Homo sapiens: one gene and its partners. The protein of the gene in region 7 purifies or fractionates together with the protein of the main gene of each other region. This does not show direct contact. Each region holds a gene or a part of one and is shown on either strand. Other genes may lie near its edges. The genes, in order: IPO5, WRNIP1, LBR, XPO5, SLC25A12, NPEPPS and SLC35B4.

Evidence for each region.
Region 1: the proteins of SLC35B4 (region 7) and IPO5 purify together in Homo sapiens (affinity purification with mass spectrometry; one large-scale study listed by BioGRID and IntAct). This does not show direct contact.
Region 2: the proteins of SLC35B4 (region 7) and WRNIP1 purify together in Homo sapiens (affinity purification with mass spectrometry; one large-scale study listed by BioGRID and IntAct). This does not show direct contact.
Region 3: the proteins of SLC35B4 (region 7) and LBR purify together in Homo sapiens (affinity purification with mass spectrometry; one large-scale study listed by BioGRID and IntAct). This does not show direct contact.
Region 4: the proteins of SLC35B4 (region 7) and XPO5 purify together in Homo sapiens (affinity purification with mass spectrometry; one large-scale study listed by BioGRID and IntAct). This does not show direct contact.
Region 5: the proteins of SLC35B4 (region 7) and SLC25A12 purify together in Homo sapiens (affinity purification with mass spectrometry; one large-scale study listed by BioGRID and IntAct). This does not show direct contact.
Region 6: the proteins of SLC35B4 (region 7) and NPEPPS purify together in Homo sapiens (affinity purification with mass spectrometry; one large-scale study listed by BioGRID and IntAct). This does not show direct contact.

What each region holds. Positions count from the first base shown.
Region 1 is NC_000013.11:98,019,675-98,022,235, forward strand, and holds part of IPO5 (importin-5), read left to right. Parts: coding exon 1-135; intron 136-1,317; coding exon 1,318-1,459; intron 1,460-2,061; coding exon 2,062-2,148; 3' UTR 2,149-2,561. UniProt on the Homo sapiens protein: Functions in nuclear protein import as nuclear transport receptor. Serves as receptor for nuclear localization signals (NLS) in cargo substrates.
Region 2 is NC_000006.12:2,784,923-2,787,452, forward strand, and holds the end of WRNIP1 (ATPase WRNIP1), read left to right. Parts: intron 1-84; coding exon 85-360; 3' UTR 361-2,030; downstream 2,031-2,530. UniProt on the Homo sapiens protein: Functions as a modulator of initiation or reinitiation events during DNA polymerase delta-mediated DNA synthesis. In the presence of ATP, stimulation of DNA polymerase delta-mediated DNA synthesis is decreased.
Region 3 is NC_000001.11:225,421,539-225,425,038, reverse strand, and holds part of LBR (delta(14)-sterol reductase LBR), read left to right. Parts: intron 1-949; 5' UTR 950-963; coding exon 964-1,128; intron 1,129-2,761; coding exon 2,762-2,962; intron 2,963-3,500. UniProt on the Homo sapiens protein: Catalyzes the reduction of the C14-unsaturated bond of lanosterol, as part of the metabolic pathway leading to cholesterol biosynthesis.
Region 4 is NC_000006.12:43,569,539-43,573,038, forward strand, and holds part of XPO5 (exportin-5), read right to left. Parts: intron 3,041-3,500; coding exon 2,968-3,040; intron 1,457-2,967; coding exon 1,319-1,456; intron 1,147-1,318; coding exon 964-1,146; intron 1-963. UniProt on the Homo sapiens protein: Mediates the nuclear export of proteins bearing a double-stranded RNA binding domain (dsRBD) and double-stranded RNAs (cargos). XPO5 in the nucleus binds cooperatively to the RNA and to the GTPase Ran in its active GTP-bound form.
Region 5 is NC_000002.12:171,786,245-171,789,744, forward strand, and holds part of SLC25A12 (electrogenic aspartate/glutamate antiporter SLC25A12, mitochondrial), read right to left. Parts: intron 1,704-3,500; coding exon 1,545-1,703; intron 1,418-1,544; coding exon 1,327-1,417; intron 1-1,326. UniProt on the Homo sapiens protein: Mitochondrial electrogenic aspartate/glutamate antiporter that favors efflux of aspartate and entry of glutamate and proton within the mitochondria as part of the malate-aspartate shuttle.
Region 6 is NC_000017.11:47,537,608-47,541,107, forward strand, and holds part of NPEPPS (puromycin-sensitive aminopeptidase), read left to right. Parts: intron 1-3,500. UniProt on the Homo sapiens protein: Aminopeptidase with broad substrate specificity for several peptides. Involved in proteolytic events essential for cell growth and viability. May act as regulator of neuropeptide activity.
Region 7 is NC_000007.14:134,299,931-134,303,430, forward strand, and holds part of SLC35B4 (nucleotide sugar transporter SLC35B4), read right to left. Parts: intron 2,181-3,500; coding exon 2,099-2,180; intron 1,892-2,098; coding exon 1,831-1,891; intron 332-1,830; coding exon 222-331; intron 1-221. UniProt on the Homo sapiens protein: Antiporter that transports nucleotide sugars across the endoplasmic reticulum (ER) membrane in exchange for another nucleotide sugar.

The DNA of each region.
Region 1 (2,561 bases), on a different chromosome or scaffold from region 7:
GAAAATCATGAAGTTCAAGCCTGACTGTGTAAACGTTGAAGAGGTCCTTCCACACTGGTTGTCTTGGCTTCCACTACATGAAGATAAAGAAGAAGCTGTTCAGACTTTCAATTATCTGTGTGACCTGATTGAAAGGTAGGAAAGCAGACTGTGACCTTATTTCCTTCTCCTCCACAGTGCTTCCTGGTTTTTCTTGCCTAACATCAGTCTTTTAAGGTTTAACCACATGATCTCTGCACAGTCCTCAGTTGTATAGGTTTATAATAGTGCTGTCTTTATAAATCATATTAAGAAACCATATCACAGTTAACATTGCCCTTATAATAAGGTCTAATTTTGAGTTATTCTTTATGAAATTAGATTCAACAGATGAGGCACTTTAATTATTTATTTCTTTGTTTTTAAATTTTTTTGGTAGCGACAAGGTCTTAACTGTTTTGCACAGGCAGGTCGCAAACTCTTGGCCTCAAGAGATCCTCCCACCTCAGCCTCCCAAAGTGCTGGGATTACAGGCATGAGCCACCAAACCCAGCCTAAGGGAATGTTGTTTAGTGTCTGTTTTCTAAGTCCAAGTTCCCCCCAAATATCAGTCAGATCTAAGCTCTGTCGCTATTATTATTTTTAGGTTATGAATAAATTCAAGGGCTACAACCACTGCCACTATTGTAGCAATAGGCCAACAGGTATATTCTCCATACTTGTTTAAGTTCAGGTTCACATAAGAAATGGGTTTGAGTCTTCCACTGACCATATCATTAAGGAATGTAACAGCCATCCTGCAGACTACATACTCCTGACCTGCTCCTACATCTGAAATGACCAGGTCTTAATCATGCTATTTGATCATCTTCCTTGGAAACGACTACTCTGAAATTCTCTTAGTGACAAAGACTAGAATTCTTAAATTCGCTATCAGGTTTTTTCCCATTAAACTTGCCTGAGTTTATTTCCCAGTTTATTCTTGAAATGTTTATATAATTTTTTTGAACTTCAGAGTTATTTTAGAAGCTATTTTGTAGTAGCAAAATAAAACTTGTGTTAAACTTATTTTTAATAATACAAAACATTTTTTTTAACACATCACAAATTATTTATAAGGTATTTAGAGCATTCTGTTGTTTGGCCCTTAAAACAATCCTGAGAGATGAGCCCAGTATTTTTTTTTTCTAATTTATGTAGAAAGAAACTAAAGAGTTCATATATAAGATTGGCTGGTTTTCTTCCTACTGAATTTAAAAGGCCATTGATTTTAGTGAACACATAATCATATTTCTCCTTATAAATTTCACTTACTAAGGTTTTCTTCTCATTTGTCAGTAATCATCCAATTGTTCTTGGCCCAAACAATACCAATCTGCCCAAAATATTTAGTATAATTGCGGAAGGAGAAATGCACGAGGCAATTAAACATGAAGATCCTTGTGCCAAACGTCTGGCCAATGTCGTTCGCCAAGTACAGGTAAGCTGATTTGGTTGAATTGGGGAGGGGGAGATAAAACCTTTTTTTCTTTGTAGTCCTCTATGAGAAGAAACTAGAAATCTAATGAGCTAAGGAATTTTATTTTTATATTTTCATAGTCTCTTGTCTCCAAGCCTCAAATGGATTATACTTAATGTAATCCATCCGTATGTACTTATTATTTATTAGAATTAAAACCTTCATCTTAGGACATTTTGAGCTTACCAGTTGGTGCTTAACACAAGCTTATGTGTAGTTTTTCTGCCTATCTTAAGAAAAAAAAACAAGATTTAATAATAACTTGTCATCTGCCAAAAAACTTTATATGATTTTTACTTCCTATATTCATGTGGTATATGGGTTACTTTAAGATGTTACCTGCTTAGTGTAGCTTTTTCAGTGCAAAAATGAAGAAAACTTACTGGAAATGAAATGAACTTTAAAAAAATGAACAGATTTCTTGCTTTTACAATGATACTCATCAAAATAATGTACCTAGGGAGAAGGTATTTTGCCATGATTACAGTTTACCTATGATGATGATTAAAATCCTTCCAAATGAGCATTTCGTCCTAAGTCTGTGAAAATGTTTCTTTCCCTAGACTTCTGGAGGACTGTGGACTGAGTGCATAGCACAGCTCAGTCCTGAGCAGCAGGCCGCCATTCAGGAGCTCCTGAACTCTGCGTGAAGGGCCTTAATGTCACCCACCAGAAAACTAACTCCAAATAAACGCTTACCCTTTCCTTTAGGTTTCTTTGTTTTGTTTTTGAGCAAAAGAGATCGGTAGTGTTGTGTGTAGGCCATTCTTCTGGAGAGCCACAAGCAGGAAGAGCAGCGCTGTGTTGCAGAATGGAGTTTCCATGGATTTCTACCAGACCACTGAAGGAGTTCCTGGAAGCCCTGCGGTAGCTAGCACTGAAGACTATTTTTCTATTGGTATAACCCGCCCACCTGAAGGGGAAAGGGAAATCAAATTAATTTTTCTCGTTAGACATAAGGAAATTTAAGGAAAAACAGCTTTAAGAACAGTTACTCAGCGTAGATGTGTGTTCACACAAATTGCTCTGCATTCAGTGTTCATTGTGAATTGGGAGTGTGAGT
Region 2 (2,530 bases), on a different chromosome or scaffold from region 7:
CCTAGAGCTGTGTATCAGAAGGGGCTCTGCAGAACAGAAGCTTGGCATCTTGCTAGTAAAATGTGTCCTCTGTGTCATTGGTAGGTGCTTCTGGCCCAGTGTGTGGTCTACTTTGCCAGAGCCCCAAAGTCCATTGAGGTGTACAGCGCCTACAACAACGTCAAAGCCTGCCTGAGGAACCACCAGGGGCCACTGCCCCCCGTGCCCCTGCACCTGAGGAACGCGCCCACTAGGCTGATGAAGGATTTGGGCTATGGCAAAGGCTACAAGTACAACCCCATGTACAGCGAGCCTGTGGATCAGGAGTACCTGCCTGAAGAGTTGAGGGGGGTAGATTTCTTCAAGCAGAGGAGGTGCTGACTCCTCAGGGCACGACAGCAGAAGGATGTTGCTTTTTTAAGGGAGGGCCAGAAAGAAAGTTAGTGGATTGCAAAGTTGGTTGCCTGGTGGAAGTTAGAACAGACCAACATTTTGTGCCAGAAATTTAAGAGTTCCATAGGTGGAGGCGCAGTTCTTTCGAATAAATGTGTAACTTTGAAATTGTGTTCATTTGCACTCGGTGCAGCGGTTATGCTTATGAAAATACCTGGCAGCTTTGTGCAATGAATTAATGTTATAAGGAATTATCTATTTTGTCATAGTATTTAAGTCATAATGTCATTTCAGAATTCAGTTCTGTAGGATTTTCTTTTCTTTAAAAAATGTATATTCTGGGTAGTTTTAATTGGTAAAAAAATGTAATTGTGATTTAATACTGCATAGTGTTTTGGGTATTTTTTTTATATGCAAAGGTCTTACGAGCCAATAAAACTATTTCAAAGTACTCTTCGATTCTGTCATGGTTTTCCTGCCTGGATGCTAGGTACCAGCGTTGTCACCATTGCATTTGGTGGGTGGATACTGGGAAGGAGAAATCACCCCAGATGGGAAGAGTGGGGAGCTTAAGTTAAGAAGTCAGTGTTATCTTGTTGAAAGTTAACTCTGATCTCTTTAAAGGAATACATAAAGGAATTCTTTAAATGGCTTGTGGAAGACTCCAGTAGTCCCATGCCCATTTTTTCCCACTTGTCCTGGTTTCTTCTTGCAGCTCCATATTTCTAAACAGTCGTTTTTCTTTTACTTTATGTGTGTCCTGAACACAAAATACGCCACTCCTTCTGCTCAGTTAAGAGTTATTTGTCCCTACTGCTACTTCCTCTCCCTCTCCTTAGTTGCATGTCGTGCATATGCCCACAAGGATGGCCCCTTCAGGTAGTCGGTTCTCCTCCTGCTGTTGCGTGATCCCTCCTGGGGTCCTCCTGCCATGTCTGGAAGGCTGCCGGCTGTTGGCCTGGGACGTCCTCTGCCTTTATTCTGAGTGAGATGCCCATTTTCTGGATGCTCCATCCCGCCTTACTGGTTTATTCCGCTATTTCAGTGCAACCCATCCTCTAGTAGTTTTATCAGGCTGGAGGGACTGTATGTTGCAGAGGCTTGGCCCGACTGGCCTCCCTCCTTCTGTCTGGAGTGGTTGCACTGCAGTGTGCAGTTGCCATCCCCAGAATCTCCCTTCATCATCACCCTGGAGCTTTCCTCTGCTTCTCCCTGCACCCCATCTGATGACAGGACTGACTGCTTTCTGGCACAGGTGGCATGTACCCTCTAGTAGCTTTATGGAGCAGGGGTGTGTGGAGGAAAAGTATTTTTAGACCTCAGGAGACTCAAAATGCTTTTATTGTACCTTCAGACGTGTCTGAGGGTTTGGCTAGTAATAAATTGTAGGTAAGAAATTACTTGTGCATTGTTTTACACTTTCCCACATTGTTGTCAAGTTTGAAGGCATCCTGATGTGTGTGGTCTTTTGTTTGTAACCTCTATCAACTTGTAGACTCTTCTGTCTTTGCTCCCCGTGTTTTAAAAGTCTGCACTGGGTACTTGTTGGGCCTTTCAATCTGGAAACTCCTTTCAGTTCTAGGGAAGTTTCTTTTTTTATTCAATAAATTTATTTATTTATGAGACCAACTCTTGCTCTTTTTCCCAGGCTGGAGGGCAATGATGCGATCTCGGCTCACTGCAACCTCCACCTCCCAGGTTCAAGCGATTCTCCTGCCTCAGCCTCCCAAGTAGTTGGGATTACAGGCGCACACCACCACACAAGGCTAATTTTTGTATTTTTAGTAGAGACGGGGGTTTCACCATGTTGGTCAGGCTGGTCTCGAACTCCTGACCTCGGGTGATCCACCCACCTCAGCCTCCCAAAGTGCTGGGATGACAGGCGTGAGCCACCGCGCCCGGCCTCAATAAATATTGAGTGCCTGTTTTATGCTGAGCATTCTTGTTGATGTTAAAACACATCAGTGAGCAGAAGAGACCAAAAATTCTGTGTTCTTAAAGCCTATGGTATGAAAAATAATATGTTAATATGCCAAATAGTGATAAGTGCTATGCTAAGGAGAAAATGAATGAAAGATTGAATATGGAAAGGGGAGGTATGGGTGCAGTTTTAGTAGAGTAGCCAAGGTGGATCTCACCAAGAAAGTGTTTGAGTCAA
Region 3 (3,500 bases), on a different chromosome or scaffold from region 7:
GGAGACAGCTCATATCTGTCCTACTGGCTGCCCCTTGGACGTGGCCCCAGCTAGTTCATGTGGTACTGGGGAAGGTCGGCAGCCCTGGTTTTGTTGTGTGGAAATGTGATTCCGCTGGTCAGCCGATGGAGCGGCATTACTGTCTGGCAGCTGGAAGTACCCAGCTATCAATTGATATTTCAAAAAGGGTGGCAGACAGGCCTCACGTAAGTGGCAGTTCTTGCAGATTGCTTGTGGATTCCTAGAGTATTGTGGGGCTTGTGGGCCATGTTTTGAATCAGAGGAAAAGAATGTTATAATTGGGGGTTGATGGCTGCTGTAGGCTTGAGAGAAGTGAGCTTGGATGAAGGCAACCACCCTGGCTTAGGTGGGTGGTTGGCAGAGTTACTTGGTATGCATTTGTACTTTAGCTGTAAGAGTTGAAAGCTAAATAACCCCCAAATTTATTCATTACAGACTTGGAATTATTTTTCTTCCTATTGTTGGGTTATAGTCATGTTAATTGTACATCCTTGATTTTCCCAGTCTGGTTTATAGTTTGCTGTTTTTAATAAAGGCAATTTGTTAAAAATACAATTAAATGCATTTTTAAAGCCATTGTAAATTGATACGCAAATTTACAAATGAGAAAATGTGTTCTTTGTGAGATTGTGCCTCATTTTTTGATTAGCGAGAACTGTGATCACGGTAGGTGGGTAACATTTTACATAGTGTGAACTTATGGCGCCTATATACATTGTTATAATTAATCTTTAGTGTCACATAGATAACGCAGTGGCTAAATCATCCTCTCAAATGATTCCAAATGAGATTGAATGTAGCCTTTCTGGCCCTAAAATCCTGACCAGTCAATTCTGGAAAGTTGTATTTTAGTGATCAGCCTGTGGAAAAAGACGAATACATAAATGTGTATGTATTGACTCAAATTTTTTTCTTTAAAACTATTCAGGTTAATTATAGAAAATGCCAAGTAGGAAATTTGCCGATGGTGAAGTGGTAAGAGGTCGATGGCCTGGGAGTTCACTTTATTATGAAGTAGAAATTCTGAGCCACGACAGCACCTCCCAGCTTTACACTGTGAAGTATAAAGATGGAACAGAGCTTGAATTGAAAGAGAATGATATTAAGGTAAGAGCTCCTTTGGTTTATCAGAGTGTGTTTACAGTAAGTGGGAAATAACTCTAAGTATGGTTTCTAAGCTCAGGATAGTCAGTTCAGCTCGGTTTGAAGGCAGAGGATTGAGCTCTTGCTTTGGGTCACATACTGTTTTTGGCTCTGGGAATGTATGAATGAGGCATAGTCCTTGTTCCCAAGAAGCTCACACTTACTGGGAAAGACAGCCATTTGCATCTGTTGGTCCCCTGGGTTTACTACGTTCTGTGTCTGGAGTTTGCTGTGGGTGGTGTTGAGTGTATCAAGGGTAGAGAAGAGCCCTGGGCTTCAGGGGAGGCTTTCAGAGGCAGTGACACCTAGCCAAGTGCTGAGAACAAACAGGAAAAACAGCAGTTGATGGGGCTGTTTCTGCAGAGAGGGCAGTATGCCAAAGTCAGGGGTCTGGGGGACACAGTCAGCCAAGTGCTGGAAGGGGGTGGTAGGGGAGGGCTAAGCAGGAGCCAGGCTGGGGGGGCTTTTATATTCCATGCCCAAGGGTTTGGGCTTCATCCTGAACACCAAGGATTTAATCAGGAGAGTGACATTAATTAGATTCGAGTCTAGCCCAGGGCTTTTCAACCTGTCTGGTGAGGGCCTGGGTTTTAAGATATCTGATCCGTAGTATACAAACATTTATATAAAATGCCATAAAAATGAGTTACTAGAAAAATAAAGACATACACAATAGACGACTCACAGTTTTACTATCAGATTCGATAGATATGAGATTACTTTGTCAAAATGCTATAAACATTTCCATACACCTATTTCTCAATTTTGGTACTTGCACAGATTAGTAACGAGCATTTCTAGGACCCATGGCTGAGGATGACACTTCGAGTGCTCTAGACCAGGAATAAAGCACAGAAAGTAAATATTTTAGACTTTATGGGAGCGGCTCCAGGCAGTATGGAAGGGAGCAGACATGGCAGTGTTCCAGTACAACTTTATGGACAGTGAAATTTGAATTTTGGATAATTTTCACACTTCAGGAAATACTGTTCTTTTGATTTTGTTTGTAATCATTTAAGAATGTAAAAGCCATTCTTAGTAGGAAGGCCACACAAAAATTGGGGTGAGGGACTTGGCCTGGGGCGTAATTTGTCTACATCCCTAGAAGCAACATAAGGAGATTCGGAGTAGGTGGGGACACAGTGAAACAGTTCCCAGTCATCCAAGCTCATGTTTTATTTTCAAGATCTGCTTATGTGTTTTGTTCAGAGTGAAACTGTGGTACTGTTTTTTTTTTTTTGGTCTGTGTGCTTATTTATTTTGTCCTGTCGTCTCAGTTTTAATCCATGTTAATTATTACCCTTCTTGCATATGGTGTTGGAAATAAGTACAGCTAATTGGTTTAGATACATTCGTTTCATGGAAATACCTTCAAAGAACAGGAATGGAAAGGCTGCATTTGTCTCATGAAAGATGGATCATTATGAAAGCATTTTCCATTGGCTTCATCTGATCCATTCTCAGATCCTAACATTTCCCGTGCTGATTTTAGAGTTAATGGTAGCAGTTCCTGCCTTTGTTATCCTCTTCTAGTGTGGGTCTGTCTGTATGTGTTATGATTTGTGGTAAAGCTCTTTGCCTTCTTCCCCCTTTCTAGCCTTTAACTTCCTTTAGGCAAAGGAAAGGTGGCTCAACTTCCAGTTCCCCTTCCAGACGCCGAGGGAGTCGATCAAGGTCACGCTCCCGATCCCCTGGTCGACCACCTAAAAGTGCCCGCCGATCTGCTTCTGCTTCCCACCAGGCCGACATTAAGGAAGCAAGGAGGGAAGTGGAAGTTAAATTGACTCCGCTGATTCTGGTACTTGTGTTTATCCTTATACAGCCTTTTGTCTTCCGCTTTATGTATATATTTACTCAAGTTACTTGCAGTTAATAATATTAAAATGTCACTGAAACATCAAATCTAAGTTGATGACTTTGGGAGTTTTCATATAAAACAAATGTTTGGAATAGAAAGTTTTAAATATCAATGGAAAAGAATGTCCTTCAGTTACCAGAAATGCTATTTAATATTTTAGTTTTTAAAAAAGCAGCGTTCAAATTTGAAATAGATGTAGCTTGTAGATTGAACTGCGTAAGGTTTTTACAGTGTATAAAAGTTCATATCATGTATGAAATGGTAAGACAAACCTGTATTACGGAAACATTCTTACTCTTAGCATCATTATACTTTATCACTTTACCTATTCAAAGATGATTTTAGTGGAATTACTTTCAAGATGTAAGCTTTGAAATATCAGGGTGCATGGAGCCTGTAGATCTTGTACAAATAGTATTTTAGATAGTAGACCAAAGACAAAGTATGTTAAGTAAAAAGAATAAAAGTAATCTTCTAT
Region 4 (3,500 bases), on a different chromosome or scaffold from region 7:
GCCTGACCAACATGGTGAAACACCATCTCTACTAAAATACAAAAATTAGACGGGCATGGTGGCAGGCACCGGTAATCTCAGCTACCCGGGAGGCTGAGGCAGGAGAATCGCTTGAACCCAGGAGGCGGAGGTTGCAGTGAGCCGAGATTGTGCCACTGCACTCCAGCATGGGTGACAGAGTGAGACTCCCTCTCCAAAAAAAAAAAAAAAATTAGTATTTTCCTAAAGAACTTCTGAAAATAAAATTAAGAATAACACCTAGGGCTGGGCTCGGTGGCTCACACCTATAATCTCAGCACTTTGGGAGAGCAAGGTGGGTAGACCACCTGAGGTCAGGAGTTTGAGACTAGCCTTGCTAACACAGCGAAACTCCATCTCTACTAAAAATACAAAAATTAGCCAGGTGTGGTGGCACATGCCTGTAATCCCAGGAGGTGGAGGCTGCAGTAAGCCGAGATCCCTATCTTTTTTTTTTTTTTTTTTTTTTTTTTTAAAAAAGGCCAGGTGCCGTGGCTCACACCTATAATCCCAGCACTTTGGGAGGCGGGCGGATCATGAGGTCAGGAGATCAAGACCTTCCTGGCTAACATAGTGAAACCCCGTCTCTACTAGAAATACAAAAAATCAGCCGGGCCTGGTGGCGGGCGCCTGTAGTCCCAGCTACTTGGGAGGTTGAGGCAGGAGAATCGCTTGAACCTGGGAGGCAGAGGTTGCAGTGAGCCGGGATCACACCACTGCACTCCAGCCTAGGTGACAGAGCGAGCCTCCGTCTCAAAAAAAAAAAAAAAAAAAAAAGAAAGAAAATGAGCTCCAGTTTTTCTGTCATTTCCTAGTTTTTTATTTTTTTGCTTATAAAATAGGATTTCATTTTGCTGACCTAGACACCCTAGTTCCTTACTGTAAGATTAATCAAAAACACTCATATTGGAAAATAGAAATGTTATAGGTAGGGGTATCCCTTACCACTTGCTGATACTTGTTTACATTTTCTTGAAGTGTGTTAAGCAGAAAACTGAAGATCCTTTCCATGTTCTGGGTTAATGTTTGCTGGATGTCCCTTCTTCTTTGAGGGGGAAGTGTCTGAAAAGTCACTACATCCTCTGCCAGTCGCAAAAGGATAAACATCACCAATTCTGTCTGTGTTTCCTACACCAATAGAAATAAGCTAGTTAAAAACTAAAATATCTTTTCATTTTATGTATATCCAAAGGCTATTTTCTGTTGCCAAAAAAAAAAACCCACAAACAAAATCAAACAACAAACCCTGAAGTTTGTTCCAAGGAAAAGTATACCAAACTGATATAGCTGTGTTTCATACCCCTTGTTTGGAAAGAGTGTCCAATTCTATTAGCATGTCAGGCCAATGCTGTGGCCACTCTCGCTTGATCATTTCCACTACAATTCGAGACAGAGCATCTTTAATATGGTTCTCCTCTTCCAAAATGTTCAATGTTCCCTGAAAAAGAACAAGAGATATTAAGAGATATGCAAGACTGGATTCCAGACTTCCAGAAAAAAGCTGGGCTGTAGAGTTGTAAAAAATTTATCAGCAGGCCTACTTTTAAACCAAACAGAACAAATGAACCTGTTCTTCAGCCTGAGTCACTTGTCCTGCATTCTTGCTAATCACTCTTCCGCTTAAAGCTTAAGTGAGGGTTGCATCACCTAAAAGGCTGTCATATCGAGAGCTAGGATGACATCATTATTCTTTACAAAATGAAAAGATTCTCATATTGATTGTTTCAGTTTGCAGAAGGCCAGGGAGGAAGAGTATAGAAATAAGGAGTATAGTGAGTAGCTGGTAAAATGGAAGGGTATGAAGGGGCAAATGAATATTTTACCAATAGTTCTAACACTAGAAGACGCAGAAGTATTAGAAGATCCCATCTCTCATGTCTGTTATTTAAAAAAAACCAAGAAAGAAAAAAGGCTACAATTTTGAACATGTTTAAAGTCATATTCTGTTTTGTGTTTAAAGAGACAGTCATCCAGTCATCACACCTGTAATCTCAGCATTTTGGAAAGCCAAGGTGGGAGGATTGCTTGAGGCCAGGGGTTTGAGACCAGACTAGCCTGGGAAACACAGTGAGACCCTGTCTCTCTAAAAACCAAAAACAAAATTAGCTGGGCATGGTACCACATGCCTATAATCCCAGCTACTTGGGAGGCTAAGGCGAGAAGATCACTTGAGCCCAGGAGTTCGAGGCTGCAGTGAGCTATGATCATGCTAATGCAATCCAGCCGGAGCAACAGAGACTCTGTCTCAAAAAAAAAAAAAAGTCATATTCTAATACTTGAAACAAATTCATTCTGCATACTTAAAATTCTGCATGTTTTTCATCATTAGTATCACATAGTAGTTGTTTGGAATAAAAGAAAATAGTGTTTCAATCTAATTTAGATCTAAGAATCTTATTGATTTGTTGAAAATATTTAATCCCCTCTGCCCTGTCTTTATAATTTAAAAAATAGAAGTCAATACATAAGCATGATTAATTAAACCTAGTAAGAGACATATGCTGAATTATGCTTTCTGCTTTTGTTTTGTTTTGTTTTTGAGATAGGGTCTTGCTCTGTTGCACAGGCTGGAGTGCCATGGCACCATCACAGCTCACTGCAGCCTGGACCTCCTGGGCTCAGAAAATCCTCCCACCTCAGCCTCCTGAGTAGCTGGGCCACAGGCATGCGCCACCACGCTCAGCTAATTTTTGCATTTTTGGTAGAGATGGGGTCTCACTGCATTGCCCAAGCTGCTCTCGAATTCTTAGATGCAGGTGATCCTCTTACCTTGGCTTCCCAAAGCGCTAGAATTACAGGTGTGAGTCACTGTGCCTGGCCTAAATTATGATTTCTTGTGCTGTCTGACCTATTTAGAAGCAGTGAATTTTTACACAAACTCCCTATTGAAGAAGTCACGCTTTGCCTAAACTACCTTGGAAACATGTCTCCCAACCACCCATTCCTTACATTTGCAATCAGCTCCATGACACTGTTCTTCAGATACACCTTCTCCAATCGAGACATGCCGTTCCACCGAAACCTGACCACCAAAATGCATAAAGTCAATAGAACCACTTTAGAAGTCTTGTCTTTACAAGAGAATAGCATGGATTTCTACATTTGATTACACTGGAGATTTCATTAAGAAATTATACTTTTGATTTTGTACCTGTCAATGAATGGGCAAAAATGATCTACATTTAACCAAAATACTAACACAAAAATTCTTGGGAAAAGGTTTTATATATGCAGTGGTCCATTAACTGGAATCCGCACAAGATTTGTACCACACGTCAGCTTTGCCTCATGATTTTATTGATGGGCCAAAAGTGAATATACATCTAGGTCAACTGCAACAATGTACTTGCTTTTCAGAAAATGCAGTTTTGACATCAGTCATTTTCTGTGCTGGCTTACAAAACAATTCTGGAAAAACTATGGCTAAGTCTTAAAGGCTACCTCTTCTGATAGGTGTTGAGGGTAGGACAATCAAGTTAGGA
Region 5 (3,500 bases), on a different chromosome or scaffold from region 7:
GCGGTGGTGGGCGCCCTTAGTCCCAGCTTCTCAGGAGGCTGAGGCAGGAGAATCACTTGAACCTGGGAGGTGGAGGTTGCAGTGAGCCGAGATCGTACCACTGCACTCCAGCCTGGGCGACAGAGCAAGACTCCGTCTAAAAAAAAAAAAAAAAAAAAAAGAGAGAGAGAGAAATAGCTTTAGTTCTTTTACAGAAGATGAAAGAAGCATGGAAAAGCCTGAAGCCTCACATTTCTACAATGCAACTGTAAGACTGCTGTTCTCACTTTTTTTGCATAGGTCCCTCCACTTGGTTCAGCAGCTGATTCCCTATATGGCCTTTGGGCACAGAGGAGTTCACAGGTTTCTGATGTGAGGACTCAGGAATGGTACTTGGTCTTCTGCTGAAAAGCTAATAATTGCTTGCTTTGGGTACAACTTCCCCACCCAGAAAATTCAACTTGTAATTCTTCTTCTCAGTGCAAGCTTCAAGTGGTAAGCTTTTAGAAGCCCAATTTCTGGCCTACAGCTCACTAGTGATTATATCCATGGGCAAAATCTCTCTTCAAACCTATTGGTTTTTCCAGTAAATTAGCTTCAAGAACATCTGCACCTAACTAATAATAAATTGTGGTGAATAATGAAATATCAGAGATGCAAAAGGGCTTGGGACTTTGAAAGAAAATGCACAAAAGTGTTACTGGTATACATTTACATTACTTCTGTGAAAGGGCCATATAATAAAATCCACATAATGAGAACGCCATGAAGTTCAGTATTTGCTTATGTGAAAAAAGACAATTATTTACACAGCATTTTAATCTGCTGCCTCCTGGCTAGGCACGGTAGCTCATGTCTGTAATCCCAGCACTTTGGGAGGCCAAGGCTGGTGGAGTTCGAGACCAGCCTGGGCAACACAGTGAGATCCCATCTCTATAAAAAAGTACAAAAATTAGCTGGGTGTGGTGGCATGCCTCTGTGGTCCCAGCTACTCAGGAGGCTGAGGTGGGAGGATCGCTTGAGCCCGGGAGGTTGAGGCTACGGTGAGCCAAGAACATGCCACTGCACTCCAGCCTGGGCAACAGAGGATATCCTGTCTTTTTTAAAAAAATTTGCTGCTTCCCTAAAATCCCCCAAATAGCTGCTTAATATTATGTACGATGTCACTCTGTCAAGTTTTACTTGCTTAACACAAATGCTTCTTAAGCTCACTGTTTTAAATGCATTGGTCTTAAAGGTTCTGTCTTATCAGTTTTCTAAGAGTTGCAACAATGCTTTTGTAGACAGAACAAACATTTGTTTTGGACTTAGTGATTTCTTTGTAAAGGAGTTGAGCAGCTGACTTACAGGCCTCCAAAATCAATGTAAAACCACCGCTGGAGAAGTTCATAAGTGACCAAGGTAACACCAAACTGGGGAGAGGATCGAAACACTCGAGCTGAAAAAGAGAAGCAGGGGCAGGGGAGACTTGAAACCAGGACAAATGTGGTAAAGATAGCCACTGAGTCACAGGGGAGGACGCTAGAGCCAGCCAGCCATTCTGTATGGCTCCAGCCCCTGCCTACCTGCAGTCCCTTTCCAAAATGCTGAGGGCCCTTCTTCCCGGAGAATCTTCCTGAAACAGTCGATGACACCACTGTATGTCGTCTGGCCAGCGCGGGCAGCCACCTGCAGTCTTGTCTTGATGACATCAGCAGGGGTCACCAGAGATGCAGCTGGGACACCTTTCAGGAGAAAACCACATTTAATTTATCTAGAGTACCTTATAAAAGATAGGAATACTGCTAACATCTACTATAGAGCCTGCAACTTCAACCACTTGAGCGGAACTCAAAACTCTTTACATAGATGTCTGGCCATTAATGGGAAAAGGGCATAGAAGCCTATTAGCTGTTGCAGTGTGATCAGGGGAAAATTATTATTATTTTTTCCTGAATTAAAAAAAAAATCACTCTACATTGCATGATCCCAAATAACTGTGAGAGAGAAAAAAAAAGTAGCAATATTAATAAGACAATTCCCAAGCGTTCCCTTTCAGTTTCAATTATTTTACCTCCTTTTTTTCTTAAATAAGATACAAGTATTTTTATGTATAAAAAAATGATAATGTCATCTTAGTGAGTCACTAAATGTATCTGACACCAAACTACTGTTTTTGCTGATTCTTGTCGTAGTGTGGGAAGTGAATATCAATACTTATAATCACTCGCTTGTTTGAAGGGCTACCTTGAGAGTTGACTGTGACTCCTTTCAGACATGCTTACATGACAAAAGTCATTACAACTGGAGCAAGAGGTGGCCAGGCAGCCAGTTAAGAAACAACAGGGGAGCTGGTCAGGGAAAGGCCCCTGTGCCCGAGCTCCCTGGGGTCATGTTGAGATTGATCAGCAGCAGGACACAAAAGATGGATTTCACAACCACACCTTTTACTTATAAAACAAAACAGAGAGCAAAGGAGCAAAATAATCTTCCCCGGGGGAAGAAATTCAATTTGGCCTGAATATCACTGTATCCTCACTAGGCGGATGGAGTTGGCAGCCTTGTACGAGGTTCTGCTAGGGAATAATGCAAATACTTCCCCTTGGCATGGCCTTGCACCCTATTCAGATGAAACTAGGTAAACTTCCTGCCTTTGGAGGCAGACTTCTGAATGTTCTCAGTTCCTGCTAGCAAAGCTTGACTGGTAAAAATTAGAAAAAATAATCTCATTCTGAAAACTGACATCAAATGTCTATGGGGAAGAAGTCGGTGCTGACAGTTCCATGGAAATATTTACTTGGTTCAACCACTTGCAAACACCTGTCCACAATTAGACTCTTCTTCTCTGGCTGTTTTTCATTGTTGATTGGAAAGCACAAGGAAAAGCCTGGAAGGCAAATGCTGCCCCCATTTAAAAGTAGGAGACTGGGCCAAGTGTGGTGGTTCACGCTTGTAATCCCAGCACTTTGGAAGGCCAAGATGGGAGGATCACCTGAGGTCAGGAGTTTGAGACCTCACATTTACAGCCTGACTCTCTTTTTTTTTTGAGACAGTCTCACTCTGTCGCCCAGGCTGGAGTGCAGTGGCACAATCTCGGCTCACTGCAAGCTCCGCCTCCCAGGTTCATGCCATTCTCCTGCCTCAGCCTCCCCAGTAGCTGGGACTACAGAAGCCCGCCACCACGCCCGGCTAATTTTTTGTATTTTTAGTAGAGACGGGGTTTCACCGTGTTAGCCAGGATGGTCTCGATCTCCTGACCTCGTGATCTGCCCGCCTTGGCCTCCCAAAGTGCTGGGATTACAGGAATGAGCCACCAAGCTCGGCCTCAGCCTGACTCTTGAGTTAGGAAGGAGCTGATTTGGAAAAGGAGGAGAGAACCAGGTGTCCTTGGCTGCACCAACACTCCGAAAAGACAAAGGAAGGAAGGGGTGCATGTTTGCTCTCTATACAACCAGTAATGAACCATTACAGAGCTCAGTGTGGCTCTGACCAGCTGTGCTGGCCAACATGGTGAAACCCTGTCTTTACTAAAAATACAAAAA
Region 6 (3,500 bases), on a different chromosome or scaffold from region 7:
GCTTGAACTCGGGAAGCGGAGGAGCGGAGGTTGCGGTGAGCTGAGATCACGCCATTGCACTCCAGCCGGGGTGACACAGCGAGACCCTGTCTTTAAAAAAAAAAAAAAAGTTGACTAATCTGAATGGAAATATTTCTAAAATACATTATCTTTTTATGCTTTGCAATTCCTCATAGTGTAGGTTTGTTTCATTGTTTTTTTTAAATACTGAACTTTATTTTGAACATCTCTCATTGACCCCAAACTATGTACTATAATTTATCAGTTTCATATCTGTTTTTTTTTTTCTTTTTTTTTTCTTTTTGAGACGGAGTTTCGCTCTGTTGCCCAGGCTGGAGTGCAGTGGCACAATCTCGGCTCACTGCAACCTCCGCCTCCCAGGTTCAGGCAGTTCTCCTGCTTCAGCCTCCCTAGTAGCTGGGATTACAGGCATGCACCACCACGCCTGGCTAATTTTGTATTTTTAGTAGAGACAGGGTTTCACCATGTTGGCCAGGCTGGTCTTGAACTCCTGACCTCAGGTGATCTGCCTGCCTCCGCCTGCCAAAGTGCTGGGATTACAAGTGTGAGCCACCGCGCCTAGCCATATCTGTTCTTTTTTTTTTTTTTTTTTTTTTTGAGACAGAGTCTCACTCTGTTGCCTAGGCCAGGCTGGAGTGTGCAGTGGTGCGATCTCGGCTCACTGCAACCTCCACTTCCCTAGTTCAAGGGATTCTTCTGCCTCAGCCTCCCTAGTAGCTAGGATTACAGGTGCATGCCACCACACCTGGCTAATTTTTGTATTTTTCTAGAGACCAGGTTTCGCCATGTTAGCTAGGCTGGTCTCAAACACCCGACCTCAGGTGATCCGCCTGCCTCTGCCTCCTAAAGTGCTGGGATTACAGGCATGAACCACCGCGCCTAGTCCATATCTGTTTTCTTTTTTTTTTTTTTTTTTTTGGAGACAGAGTCTTGCTCTGTCGCCAAGGCCGGAGTGCAGTGGCGTGATCTCAGCTCACTGCAACCTCCGCCTCCCGGGTTTAAGCGATTCTCCTGCCTCATCCTCCCAAGTAGCTGGGACTACAGGCACCTGCCATCATGCCAGGCTAATTTTTGAATTTTTAGTAGAGAAGGGGTTTCACCATATTGGCCAGGCTGGTCTCGAACTCCTGACCTTGTGATCCACCCGCCTCGGCCTCCCAAAGTGCTGGGATTACAGGCCTGAGCCACCGCACCCGGCCAGCCTGTATCTGTTCTTTAAAGTTGTTTTGTTTTCCTTACTCTCATGTTCTTCTTGCTGCTTATTGTGCCTTGTTGCTGCCTGTTGTGCAATTTCTTCCCTCTTGTATTTTACTGAACTTCATCTGAAGAAGCCTTAGTAGCCAGATAAACAAGCTTGTTTGGGCTAAAAAATCAATTGCTGTGTGAGAGTTTGTTGGATTCTCTTCTGAGTAAAGGGTATGCGTTTTATTGTACGGACTTTGTATCACCTATTTTGGCTTTTCATCTAGGCCTTTTTTTTTTTTTTTTCTTTTTTCTTTTTAGCCTCCTGGTTCTAGATACAACTGATACTCTGATACAACCTGGGTAAATGTGGTCTTGAGTAGTAAATTATCTGTGAAGCTTCTCCGAACTTTGCCACATAAATGAGCCTGCTCTTATTGTGAAGTAAATCTTACTCTAATCTGTATGTGAGTCAGTGGGAAATATCTGAGCCTTCGGATGGCTTTTGTTAACTGAGATTAGTTCTCTAGATTTTAGTGATTTCGTTTTGAACACCATACAAGTATGTGGTCCTTGGTTTATTTGGTCACTTGTAATCTCTTTAAAATTTTATTTTAAATTAGGAAATATTTTAGAAATACAAGAAAGTCACACACTATGAGATTAAACAGATGTTAACGTTTTGCCCCATTTTCATCAGACTGTGCATGCTTTTTTTGGGGGGGGAATAAAATGTCACAGATATCACTAAAGCCCATTTCCATCTCGTCCCACCCTGCCTCTAGAAGTAACTTCTTTCTTCAGGTAGGTGCGTATTATTCCTTTTTATTCCTATGTATAGTTTAAAACTTTAATTGCATATTAGTAGCCACAAACATCACATACCAATATTCTGTGCCTTTTGCATTTTTACATTAATGGTAATTATTTTTGACCTTCTGCAAGTGGCTCTTTTCAATGTTTCTTGTTAGAAAACTTGGCTCAACTTGAGTTTACTAATTATCTGCTTCTTCTTGTCTTTAGCTATTATAGAACTGTTCCACCAAGGCAACAATTATTGCTATTTTAATGGTGAAATCAGTTTTATTAGGCAAATTGACTCAGGCTTCAGACTGGCATTTGGAATTGTCACACTGGAGATTTTCTTTTACTGAAATCTCAGGACATTGACAATCAGAAAAAAACCCTCTTGAGTCTTACTATCTTACATGTAAGATATGTTCCTGAGTGACTGTAGTAAAGACTCATTCAGGAAAATGTTATCTCCGATTTCTGCCTCCCTATCTCATAGGAAACTTCCATTGTAAAGTTGTTACCAGGCGTCAAGCTGCCTCTTTGGTACAGCCCTTACTTAGTATTTGGCTCAGTTGAAGTGCAGTCTATATAGGAGGCCAAGAAGACTTAATCCTGGGTTTGAAACAAAGCAAGGATACACTAACATTCTATCCTTTAATAACATCAAGTAGAAAAATTGAAAATGAGCTTGTTATCAGTGCACTTTTATATGCCAACCTTGTTTCACTTGTGTTTTAAACTGGGAAACTGAAGATTTTAATGCTGAAATTTCTTTGAATTATTACCTGTTTTTTTGATAGTGGAACACACAGCTAATATTTACTAACATGAAGGTGTCAAAGGTGGGAAATCATGTACTACACCATCAGGTCAGCACTACTGTTTGGAAGAGCAGCATCACAATGAGCAGTGTTATACTGCGTTGTAGTCAGCACATACACTTATGTCCAAACAGATATTTTAAATTACCTTCTTGGGGTAGTACACATGTGCTGATATCCAAAGTGCCATATAATACAATACATAGTTTTTAAACTTCATATCATTCTGATCAGAAGCTTTATAAACTGTTAGGTGAATGCTGTTAGATGATATGAGAGCACAATTTAACCTGTGTGTGTGTATGTGTATGTCTTAACATCTATTAAGTGATGACTACATATGAAGCACTAAGTGCTAAAACAGAGACTTTACATAGATTATCCCATTATTGGTCAACTTTTTAAATAAGTGCATCTCTAATATAAGACAAGATGCTGACCAATTTTTAAAATGTGAATGGATTTCTATTTTTAAGATAAGTACCTTTGTTCCTTTGGTTCCTCCCTCCCACCCTTCCAGAAATGGTAGTATCCTGGAAAAAAAAAATTAGTAACAATTCAAGAAACAGCTTAATTCATTAGTATAAATAGATGAGTTTCCCTTAAACACAGGAGGAGTTGGAAGGTACTTGTAATTGGATGTTGTGCATGGTGCCTTTCCAAAATGCACAAATACTTTCT
Region 7 (3,500 bases):
ACACAATTTAATTTGCTTTGATTGATCGTGATCATCTCATGTAGTGAACTGTGACTTGGAACCCACCAGAGCATCCCATCAAAACTGCTTCAGTCTGTGGGTCTCAAAGCCATCTACCAATAATACACCTTCAACTACATCAGAGAATATTAATAGTTCACTTGAAGTAACATTTTACAACTTAGGAATTTTCACGTTCCCAGGTTCAGGAAGTTGCTTACATTATAAAACAAAGCCTCCTTGGAGTGTTTCCCAAATCGTTTGTAGAGAGTCTCTTGGAATATCCCCATCCTTGCTGACATCAGAAGAGCAAAAGTCAATGCCCCAATACCTAAAAAACAAACATCAGGTGACAAGATGTCTGCATTTGTTCATTTCCAGATGTTTTTCTTGAAGAACATTATTGTTTAAAGTCCTGCAAATATTATGAACTAATTGTAGAACATGTACAAAACTGTAAAAAGAAATAAAAATACATTATTACCATCTAGTCCTTTACAGCTTTCTACATCTTCTTATATATTCATTTATGTAAATTTTTTTACACTAAGACAGGATCAGATTGCATATGGAATTTTATATCTTGCTTTTTTCATGAGCTTTTGCCTGGAATTTTGCTTCAAATCAGTCATTAAAATTTTTTAAATAGAATGCTTTTAATGACTATGATATGGATGTAGCACACTTAAATGTATGAGGATGGTTATTTCCAATTATTTCATTATTAAAATCAATGTACATCCTTGTATACAAATCTTTAAACAAATGTTGATATATTTTAGGATAAACCCTCATAAGTGGAATTACTGAGTCAAAGGCTGTGGACATTTAAAAAATACAATACACAATATTTTTCCATAAATGCTGTGTCCATTTATACCCAAACTATTTTTATTATATAAAAATAGTTGTTTTACTGTACCCTCAGCAGCAATGAGATAACCATTTATCATCTTGCCAGTATGATAGGCCAACATAAAAAGGTATTGCATGGGTTTCATTTGCATTTCTCTGATTACTAGACTAGTGAGGCTGAACCTAAAATTGTTGGGTGCTACTATTTCCCCCATGAACTATATGTTCATATCCTTTGCAAATTTTTCTTCTGGAGTATTTTTCTAATAGCACATAAGGATCTTTCTATGTTACAAACAGCAACAAGGGATAAAGTCTCAAAGCCAAGAAGCAAGGAGAACACAGTTCTTTCACTGCTATTTCTCTTCCAATTGGTCAGTCTCAATCCGTTATTGTTGTCATTGAAAGCCCTTGGAACGAGTCTCAGCTCCATATCAAAAAATGTGAGAACAAAGCTCTACAGGAGCTGCCTATTTAATTCCACAGAGATCCTTGTATTTTTAAAAATTCCCCAGGAGATTCTGATAATCAGTCAGGTTTGGGAACACTGCCATATGGAACAGCTAACCTCTGAAGAAAATAAGTCTTTAGAAATGAGTCCCTCGGAAATTTAAAGAGTCAATTGCTCTAACGTGCCCTCTTGCAGAAGCTTCAACTTGGCAGACAGATCGTGAAGAGACGGATGACATTCAAAGGATGTGATGTGCAAGTAGACACACACTTTTCTTTCTACACCAGTGGCAACCAAGAAAAACATGGATCCATGTTGTAGAACATACTGCCATGAATGTGGGGGCATTTTCTTTTTTTCATTTCTTGAACGCTAAGGCTCAGAGAAATATGATCCCAGGTGCCTCTCTTCCATGGCATAATTTGTTTAGCTGAAGCTTCTTGCCAAGAAACATTTCTCTTAGGAGAAAACTCAGCAAACACAACTGCAGAGGCAATTAGCTTTATTATAATTATTGTACTTGCCTAGTAACCACCACACAAATGCCTGGAATCCATCATTCTCACTCAAGCTGGACTGGGAAGTCTAGGAAATAAGAAAATAAACTAGGTACAGAGAGCAGAACTACGTGCAAGGTGCCGACATACAAGGGAAACATTTATGTTACCCATTTCCCTCCCCTCTTCTCTTTCAAAATCTTTGTATTACATAAAAATTTGAATTGTATTAATTGCCTGGTAACTGGGCCCCAATAGCAAGTAGTGAACATAAAATAATTTGTGAGCTTCTTACCACCTGCTTTGCTGACATAAAAGTGCAAATAAATATCCCCACAGACACCAGGGCAATGGAGGTATATTTGAATATACTGTATCTGCAAAAAAGAAAAAAAAGAAGAAAAACACCTTAGGAAAGCACAGATATGAATTTCCCAGTGATATTTACAGTCAGATGGTGCATGAAAGTACAAATCACTAAAGTATGACAGACAGGATTACTTTCCAGCAGAGTCCACAGAAGTATGCATATGAATGAATCAGGATACTGACTAGTTTCTAACCAACACTTTTCCTTAGTACTGTTTAGTCTGTCTCCAACAATTTGCTGACCAATCGATTATTTCATCAGGAGACAAAAACAGAAATAGACCAGATGTGATGTTGCATTCTGCTCTCAAGAGTCCAGATGAAAGGCTGACCCAGTCCTTACTAGGATCTGTTGCTTTTCCTGTCTTTAGGGGGACCAAATCTGTGTCCTAAGACACACTGTGCGAGTGGAAAAACAGGCTATCAGGTGCAAGCAGCAGGATTCAATGCTCAGAAAATAATCCAATCATCCATTCTCTGGGGGAGGCTTGTTTTTTTTAAATCTCTGAATGACTTAACATTGTTTTAAAATGTTGGCATAGTTGGATAAGGGGGAGGATATTCAGATTATAGAACTATGGGCTGTAATAACAGTAGCATTTCACATTAGCTAGTATCATTAGCACCCTCTCAGATTTTTGGTGATCAAGCAAAAGGCCTCAGGCAAGGATTAAAAGAAATTAAGAAGATGAACCATCCCAGGTTTTCTACTCAAATACATAGTATTGTCCTGGTCACAGTACCTCATAAAAGGCCAGCAGAACTAGCTAATGGGCAGAGAAAGGGACTAAAAGGGCCAAGAGGACCACGCTAGAGAGCGGTTGGGGAGGAAGCAGGTACGAGCGGAGGTACGGTAAAAAATAATGAACCTCTTCAGTCTGCAAAGATCACGCTGAAGAGGTTTACAACTGAGGCCAAAAATAATAATAAAGGCATGGGTAAGGTGAATATAAATTTGATATTCAAATCCTGGAATGAGGAGCACACTATGAACTTGAGGGGCTTCTACCCAAGATAAAAGGAGATAAGAAGTTACTAATTTACTCTGTTGGAAAGTTAACTTATGGAAATTCCTGCTCAATGGGAAAGAGATACACACAGAAAAGAGAGTCAAAAGGCTTAGATAGATGCAAGATGACACACTCAGAACAAGTTCTTAAGGGCAACAGATGCTTGAGAAAGACCCGTAACATTTTGGGGCACTATCAGGAGAATACAATTTCTCTTATAACATGTTCTTTTGTATCCTTGTCATGAGCCAGAATCAAAGGTTGGGAAAGAGCACAGGCCTGTCCCAAGGCGAATTCCACACTATAAGAAGCATGATG